Linked DNA regions of Homo sapiens. Changing the gene in region 2 together with the main gene of any one other region gives a genetic interaction. Each region holds a gene or a part of one and is shown on either strand. Other genes may lie near its edges. The genes, in order: CARS2 and PGK1.

Region 1 (3,816 bases), on a different chromosome or scaffold from region 2:
ATGATCTAGATGGGGACAAAATATGAATACATTAAACAGCAAACTATGGCAGTGCAGAACTGGCTGCCAAATGGTACAGCAGAGATATCAAGGCTGAGAAAGTAAGTTCACTTTCAACTGTGCTGGGTGAAGGAGAACTTCATGGAGAGATGAGGCTGTGGTCAGGGTTTGCAGCCAGGATGGGTGGGATTTAGTTCGGATTTATGGCGATGCTTCATCACCAAAGCAGCAAAACAGCAAGACGCCAGCCTTGCCTGGGGTCCACCAGACAAAGATTAGCATCCGCAAACCAATGAAACCACCTGCAGTAAGCAACATGCAAATCTAAACACAGACTGCTCCACAGGAAAACTGACCTGTCAGAGTCTTGAATCTACATGTGCTTACCCAGAAAAAATGAAAAAAAAAAAAAAAGAGAAAAAAAGAAAAAAAGAAAGAGGAGGGGAAAAAGTGAGGAGACTAAACCAACAAATGCACACGCAGCACATGCCCTGGGGACAAGTGAGTATATTTAATACAGAGAGGACACGCGAAGCTAGCCAGAAATTCTTCATTGTCTGAGGTCTGACCATGACATCTGGACTCCTTTTATGCAGAGATGCATGTTGAAGTGTCATGGCTGATGCGACAGAACATCTGCAACTCACGCTTTTTTTTTTTTTTTTTGAGACAAGGTCTCGCTCTGTCTCCCAGGCTGGTGTGCAGTGGGACAATCATGGTTCACTGCAGCCTCGAATTTCCTGGGCTCAATCTATCCTCTCACCTCGGCCTCCTGAGTAGCTGAGACTACAGGAGCACGCCACCATGCCTAGCTAATTTTTATATTTTATTTTTGTAGAGAAGGGGTCTCTCCATGTTGCCCAGGCTGGTCCTGAACTCCTGGACTCAAGTGATCCACCTGCCTCTGCCTCCCAAAGTGCTGGGATTATAGGTATCAGCCACCACGCCCAGCCCTGCAACTCACTTTTTTATTTTTATTTTTTGAGACAGTCTGGCAATGTCACCCAGGCTGGAGTACAATGGTGTGATCTCGGCTCACTGCAAACTATGCCTCCTGGGTGCAAGCAATTCTCATGCCTCAGCCTCCAGAATAGCTGGGACCACAGGCGCGCGATACCAGGCCTGGCTGATTTTTTGTCATCTTAGTAGAAAGAAGGTTTTAACATGTTACCCAGGCTGGTCTCAAATTCTTGGCCTCAAGTGATCCACCCGCTTCCACCTCCCAAAGTACTGGGATTACAGGCATCAGCCACCATGCCTGGCCCTGCAACTTTTTGTTTTTTGTGCAGGGGAGGGTGGGTGGACGGAGTCTTGCTCTGTCACCAGGCTGGAGTGCAATGGTGTGATCTCGGCTCACTGCAACCTCTGACTCCCGCAACTCACTCGTAATGGCCTGTGAAAAAACGATAGCCAAACAGACGGGGGTGACCTGGGCTGACTTTTAATAAGAAGAGAGCAGGTCTCTGGAGGTACTGTGTTTGTCCCCAACTTTTTGTTAGGAAAATACCTAAACAAAGATGAAATAACACCACAATGAACACCTGTACACCTACCACCTAGATTCCACGACTGTTACCAAGACTAGCTGTCCAGACGTTCCCCTCTCCCTGGAAAAGATATTTAGAACTAATTCAACCATTTCGCAAAGAGACACAATATTGTAGAAAACCCCACAACAGCTTTGCTGTTGGAATCCTAGCAAGACAGAAGTAAATTTTAGTATGTTCCTACAGCTGATAAATACATCCAGTTTCTCCAAATCCCAGTAATGTTTTAGTTTTAAGAACATAAACCGGCTGGGCACAGTGGCTCACGCCTGTAATCCCAGCACTTTGGGAGGCTGAGGCAGGTGGATCACAAGGTCAGGAGTTTGAGACCAGCTTGGCCAACATGGTGAAACCTTATCTCTACTAAAAATACCAAAACAAAAAAAATGTAGCCGGGCATGGTGGCACGCACCTTGTAGTCCCAGCTATTCAGGAGGCTGAGACGGGAGAATCGCTTGAACCAGGGAGGCAGAGGTTGCAGTGAGCTGAGATAGCACCACTGCACTCCAGCCTGGGTGACAGAGTAAAACTCTGTCTCAAAAAAAAAAAAAGAAAAAAAAAAAAAGAACATAAACCCTACCTTTTGCCGTTGAATAAGCGTTCCCACGAGCAATGATTCCTTCAATGAAAGAAATTATCTGAGGAATATTTTCGGTTACCCTCAGGTACACCGTGGGTGGGAGAACCTGCAAGGAAGTGGAGACGTGACCGTGTTTCCCTCGTGAGAAGCACAGGTCAGCCAGCACCAGCTGTCATTGCTCACGCCTGTCACCCTCATGGCAGGAACAACCAGCCCCACACTTTACCTTCAGGGCTGCCATGTCCTGCTTGAAGTCTTCCTCATAAAGACTGGCGAGGGAAGCGGGGGAAATATTCATCTGCAGAAGGATTAGATGTGCACGTTAATGAGTCTGGGGCATTCGCAACAGAACCACCCAGCCACAAGAAAGCCCACGTGCACAACACGACAGCAAACATACCCCGGCCACCTCCGGTGCCTCGGCCTCAGTTTGCCCCCACCCACTCACCAAAGCGGGGGCACTCATTTTAGGTACTGAACTTTTACTAGTAGCTTAGCTAGAAAAAAAGGCTTATTGACCTTGTCTTCTGGTTAGAGAAGAAATAATGTCACAATTTCCATTATATAGTAAAAAACAAACCAGCTGGGTGCAGCGGCTCACGCCTGTAATCCCAACACTTTGGGAGGCCAAGATGAGTGGATCGTTTGAGACCATGAGGTTGAAGCTGCGAACAGCCATGATCGTGCCACTGCAATCCCATCCTTGGCAACAGGACGAGACACCATCTCCGAAACAAAAATAAAAATAAAGTAAAATAGAAAACAAAACATACCAAGGATCCTCCACTTTTCTAAGACAAGGGCAAAATCACCCTAGTCCAGTCTGTATGATAAGAAACTAGGTTCCTATCTTATCCCTTAATCCTCAGGAGAAAAAAAAAATAGTCAAAAATATACTAAAGAGGAGGCTGGGTGTTGTGGGTCATAGCTATAAATCCCAGCACTTTGGGAGACTAAGGCAGGTGGATGACATGAGGCCGGGAGTTTGAGACCAGCCTGGCCAACACGGTGAAACCCCGTCTCTACTTAAAATACAAAAGTTAGCCAGGCATGGTGGTGCACACCTGTAATCCCAGAGACTCAGGTGGCTGAGGCAGGAGAATCACTTGAACTCAGGAGGCGGAGGTTGCAGTCAGCCAAGAAGGTGCCACTGCACTCCAGCCTGGGCGACAGAGCAAGACTCTCTTCCAAAACAAACAAAAAAGAAAGATCAAAAAGGAACTTCTAAAGAAATATTTTGAAAGTAATTTAACACACTACAACTGGGATTTAATGGAGTACTCATTCCCTCGGGTCCCATGGCTGGGTTTCTGGAGATAGACCATCAAAACAGTCCAATCAATTCCAAATGTGGGGGCCTTGGGGGCACGCATCTGCAGCCCCTGCCACATTATCCAAGGAGGCTGAGACACAAGACTAGGTTCGCTCATGTTATTTCATAATTTCAATGAAAAACTCTACATGAACAGATGCACAAGACACTGTGAAGCTCTGGAATGGAGCCGGGCATCATAACTGCTGGTCCTGCTCAAATGGCCTTTGGGCCTCCCAAGCACAGCACCTGCCACCTGCTAGTCTCTCCGAGCTGCTCCACGCAGCCTCGGGAACCAAGTCTCCCCATTTCACAGGTGAAGGAATTACCACTCTAGAATACTGAGAAACTTTCTCAAGCGCAACGCCACACGTGGG
Region 2 (3,816 bases):
TTTGTGGGGTTTTTGTTTTGAGGCAGAGTCTCACTCTGTCGCCCAAGCAGGAATGCAGTAGCGTGATCTCAGCTCACTGCAACCTCCACCTCCCGGGTTCAAGTGATTCTCCTGCCTCAGCCTTCTGAATAGCTGGGACTACAGTGGCACACGCCACCACGCCCGGCTAATTTTTGTATTTTTGGTAGAAACGGGGTTTCACCATGTTGGCCAGGCTGGTCCCAAACTCCTGACAGGTGATCTGCCCGCCTTGGCCTCCCAAAGTCCTGGGATTACAGGCGTAAGCCACCATGCCCGGCCCCTTATACTGTTCTAGCTTATATGCACACAAGTTATCTACTATCTTCTTTGGTTAGGTTAAAAATTCCTTCAGAACATAAATGCTCTTATATTCCCTCTATCACGTCTTTAAGCACATAGAAGGAACTCAAATATTTGCCTAATTGACAAGTTGTTTATGACTGGAGATTCCCCCATTCATTCTTTAGGTTAACAACCCAAATAAATGAGGGGTGATCCTGGAAACAGTCCAGTAGAAAGTACTTAAAAGGTACAGTCAGAGATTGTTGGATAGATAATGTTGGCAATTGTAGAGTCTAGGTGCTGGGTTTATGGGAGTTTATGCTTCTTTCAGTTCCATTTGAAATAATTTTTAAAACGTTGGAGGAAAGGTAATCAGTAGGAAAAAGTCACAAAAATTGGACTAGAATTCCTGAGTACCCATAGAGGTATGCAGAAACATGGTACAATTTAAAATTAACTACAAATATGGGTACAGTATTAACTAAAATACAAATGAAGAAAAAACTTGAGCTTTCAAATTTCTGTTTTGTTTAGAGCAACCACCAAAATTTTCTTTTGCTATTCTATCCAGGGTTAAACAAAATAGTCTAGAAGCATCATGTCAGGGATAGAGTCTAGAAGCATCTATAGCCTAGAAGCATCATGTCAGGGACGGAGGCACATTGGAAAAGCATCAGCCACTGGAACCAGACAAACCTGGACTTGAATCCCTGCTGTTACTTACTAGCTCTGTGGTCCTGTCCAAAAGTTTATTTCTTTGTCCCTAAAGGTGAAATACATATCTTTCCAGCACAGAATTTCTGGTCAGACATGGCTTTTTCAAATCATGTTTACCTCTGCTCTCTCCCAAAACTCCATTAAAAGGACAGGAAAGAAATAGGAAGGTAAAATTATAAAGATGATGAAAGAATCCGAATGGCCATTTAGATTCTCAATAGTGACAATGAAACAGTGGCTTCGAGTCTCAAAAAGTGATACTCAGGCTAAAATTCTATATATAGCCAAACTAGGAATCAAGTATAAGGGTCGAATAAAGACATTTTCAGACTTACAAAGTCTTAGAGATTTTGCCTCCCAGGCACCCTTTCTCAGGAAGCTAGTAGAGTCTTGTGTTCTACAAAAAGTAGACCAAGAAAGAGGGAAAAGGGGGAATCCAGAAAACAGGAGTCTAACACAGGAGGTAAAAGAAATCCCCAAGAAGGTTATAGGAAATACCAGAGCAACAGCTAGCTGTACACCCTGCCTAGAGGGCATCAAGTACAAATTGGATAAAGGAGCACTAAGGACTCCTGCAGGGATAACTCTAACAAGGATTATTCAATATGTTTTAATATATTGAGACACTTATGCTTCTAGAAGATTTGGGAATGAATCACTGATGGGTATACACAGAAAATTTTTTGAAACACTGTTAATGCCAAAGACAATAAAAGTTACATAAGTAAATTTAATCATAGCATACTACATAGCTCAGCTGTATTAGTTATGTAGACTTTTGATCTAATCTATAATTGTGACAAAACTATACCGAGAGAATGAAGAAGTGGAAATATATGTGGAACAGAGCCTTCCTCCATGGTATGAAATAGATTTCTTTAAAAAATAAAAAAAAAAGAAGTGAACAATATAAGCATATTACTTAGAAACATGGAGGTATATACCTGAAAAACTCAAGAGTTGAAAGTGGTCACCTCTGGGGAGTGGGAATCTTGAATGGGAGGAATGGGCTGGGGCTTTTTTGTTATAAGCCTTGACTTTTTAAATTATGATCATGTGTAACTGATAAAAATAAAAGTTAGAATAAAAGCACTAGCACAATGTCTGCCATAAAGTAGGCCCTTGATAAAGAATGGACATTTATCTAATTGTCCCATCTCTCCACTGCTGCTGCCCCACTTCTTGCATTCAGCAATATAGACATCTGATCCGTTCCTCAAGATTCTATTCTCACCCTTCCTAACAAAGTATGACAGGAAAAAAAAAAAAATCACGGTTTCAATGGACACTTTTATTGTTTACTTAATGGATCATCAATTTTGTCTCACTACCTACAAATGGAATTTCATCTTGTTTCCATGCTGAGTAGTGAAACAGTGACAAAGCTAATCATAATAACCTACATCAAAAGAGAACTAAGCTAACACTGCTCACTTTCTTTTTAACAGGCAAAATATAAATATATGCACTCTAGAATGCACAATGGTTTAGTCACTAAAAAATTCAAATGGGATCTTGAAGAATGTATGCAAATCCAGGGTGCAGTGAAGATGAGCTGAGATGCTGTGCAACTGTTTAAGGGTTCCTGGCACTGCATCTCTTGGCCACTAGCTGAATCTTGACATGGAAGGTTTTAGCTAATGCCAAGTGGAGATGCAGAAAATGCTAAGTTGACTTAGGGGCTGTGCACAGGAACTAAAAGGCAGGAAAGTACTAAATATTGCTGAGAGCATCCACCCCAGGAAGGACTTTACCTGTTTTTGAGAGAGCACACATACATAGACAGCATTACTATAGGGCCCAGTAAGCCAGATTTCCCCCACTTTATCTTCCCAATAACATGCCAGCTCTTTTTTAGGATATATGGCCAGGAGCTGGCCAACTTTTACATTGTGGATTCCAGGTCTACTAGACCATAACTCTCAGACCAAGTTTCTATCTGTCCCTCCCCGCCTCAGTGGATGCCAGGAGCTTTATCTGAAGTTCCTCTGTACTGCCCAGGTAGTAATGACTGCTAATGACAACACTACCTTCTAACTTTCTCCACTCCATTCTACCCACCTCTCACTGCACAGTCCACCCTTATCCCAAACAAGCCAAAAAACAGAAGACCCTCACCTTCCAGGAGCTCCAAACTGGCACCACCCCCAGTGCTCACATGGCTGACTTTATCCTCCGTGTTCCATTTGGCACAGCAAGTGGCAGTGTCTCCACCACCTGTTGAATGAAAGCCAGGTAAAAAGGGAAAAGAGAGAAAAGAAAAAAAAGGGATTGGCACCAAAACTGTAAGGCAGTGTGCTCCCCAACCCAAAAGGTAGCTGATAAACCCCCAACTCTATCTTACCAAGAGGCTCCTCTGTAAATTACCTACCTGTTTACCTCTTAACATTTACCCAGAATAAAGAGACATAGAAGAAGTTCTCCATTCCACCTTCCTCTGATCAGAATTCTGCCAGCTTATATGGGTATTAGCTTTGTATAGGACCGCTTACCTATGATGGTGATGCAGCCCCTAGAAGTGGCTTTCACCACCTCATCCATGAGAGCTTTGGTTCCCCGGGCAAAAGCTTCCCATTCAAATACCCCCACAGGACCATTCCACACAATCTGCTTAGCCCGAGTGACAGCCTCAGCATACTTCTTGCTGCTTTCAGGACCACAGTCCAAGCCCTGAGGGGTAGAGGTGAAAGAGAAGATGAGCTATCAAGAAAAGCTACTTAAACACCACCTCCACCAAGACCAGAACTCAGGGCTGCACACCAAAGTTTCTTCTAGAAACAAATAGTACCCTTCAGT

What was found.
Region 1: changes in PGK1 (region 2) and CARS2 together harm fitness more than expected from each alone (negative genetic interaction), as found in Homo sapiens cells (one large-scale study listed by BioGRID).

What each region holds. Positions count from the first base shown.
Region 1 is NC_000013.11:110,685,594-110,689,409, forward strand, and holds part of CARS2 (probable cysteine--tRNA ligase, mitochondrial), read right to left. Parts: intron 2,426-3,816; coding exon 2,354-2,425; intron 2,234-2,353; coding exon 2,128-2,233; intron 6-2,127; exon of another isoform or gene 1-5. UniProt on the Homo sapiens protein: Mitochondrial cysteine-specific aminoacyl-tRNA synthetase that catalyzes the ATP-dependent ligation of cysteine to tRNA(Cys). In addition to its role as an aminoacyl-tRNA synthetase, has also cysteine persulfide synthase activity.
Region 2 is NC_000023.11:78,124,748-78,128,563, reverse strand, and holds part of PGK1 (phosphoglycerate kinase 1), read right to left. Parts: intron 3,691-3,816; coding exon 3,513-3,690; intron 3,238-3,512; coding exon 3,139-3,237; intron 2,775-3,138; coding exon 2,734-2,774; 3' UTR 1-2,733. UniProt on the Homo sapiens protein: Catalyzes one of the two ATP producing reactions in the glycolytic pathway via the reversible conversion of 1,3-diphosphoglycerate to 3-phosphoglycerate.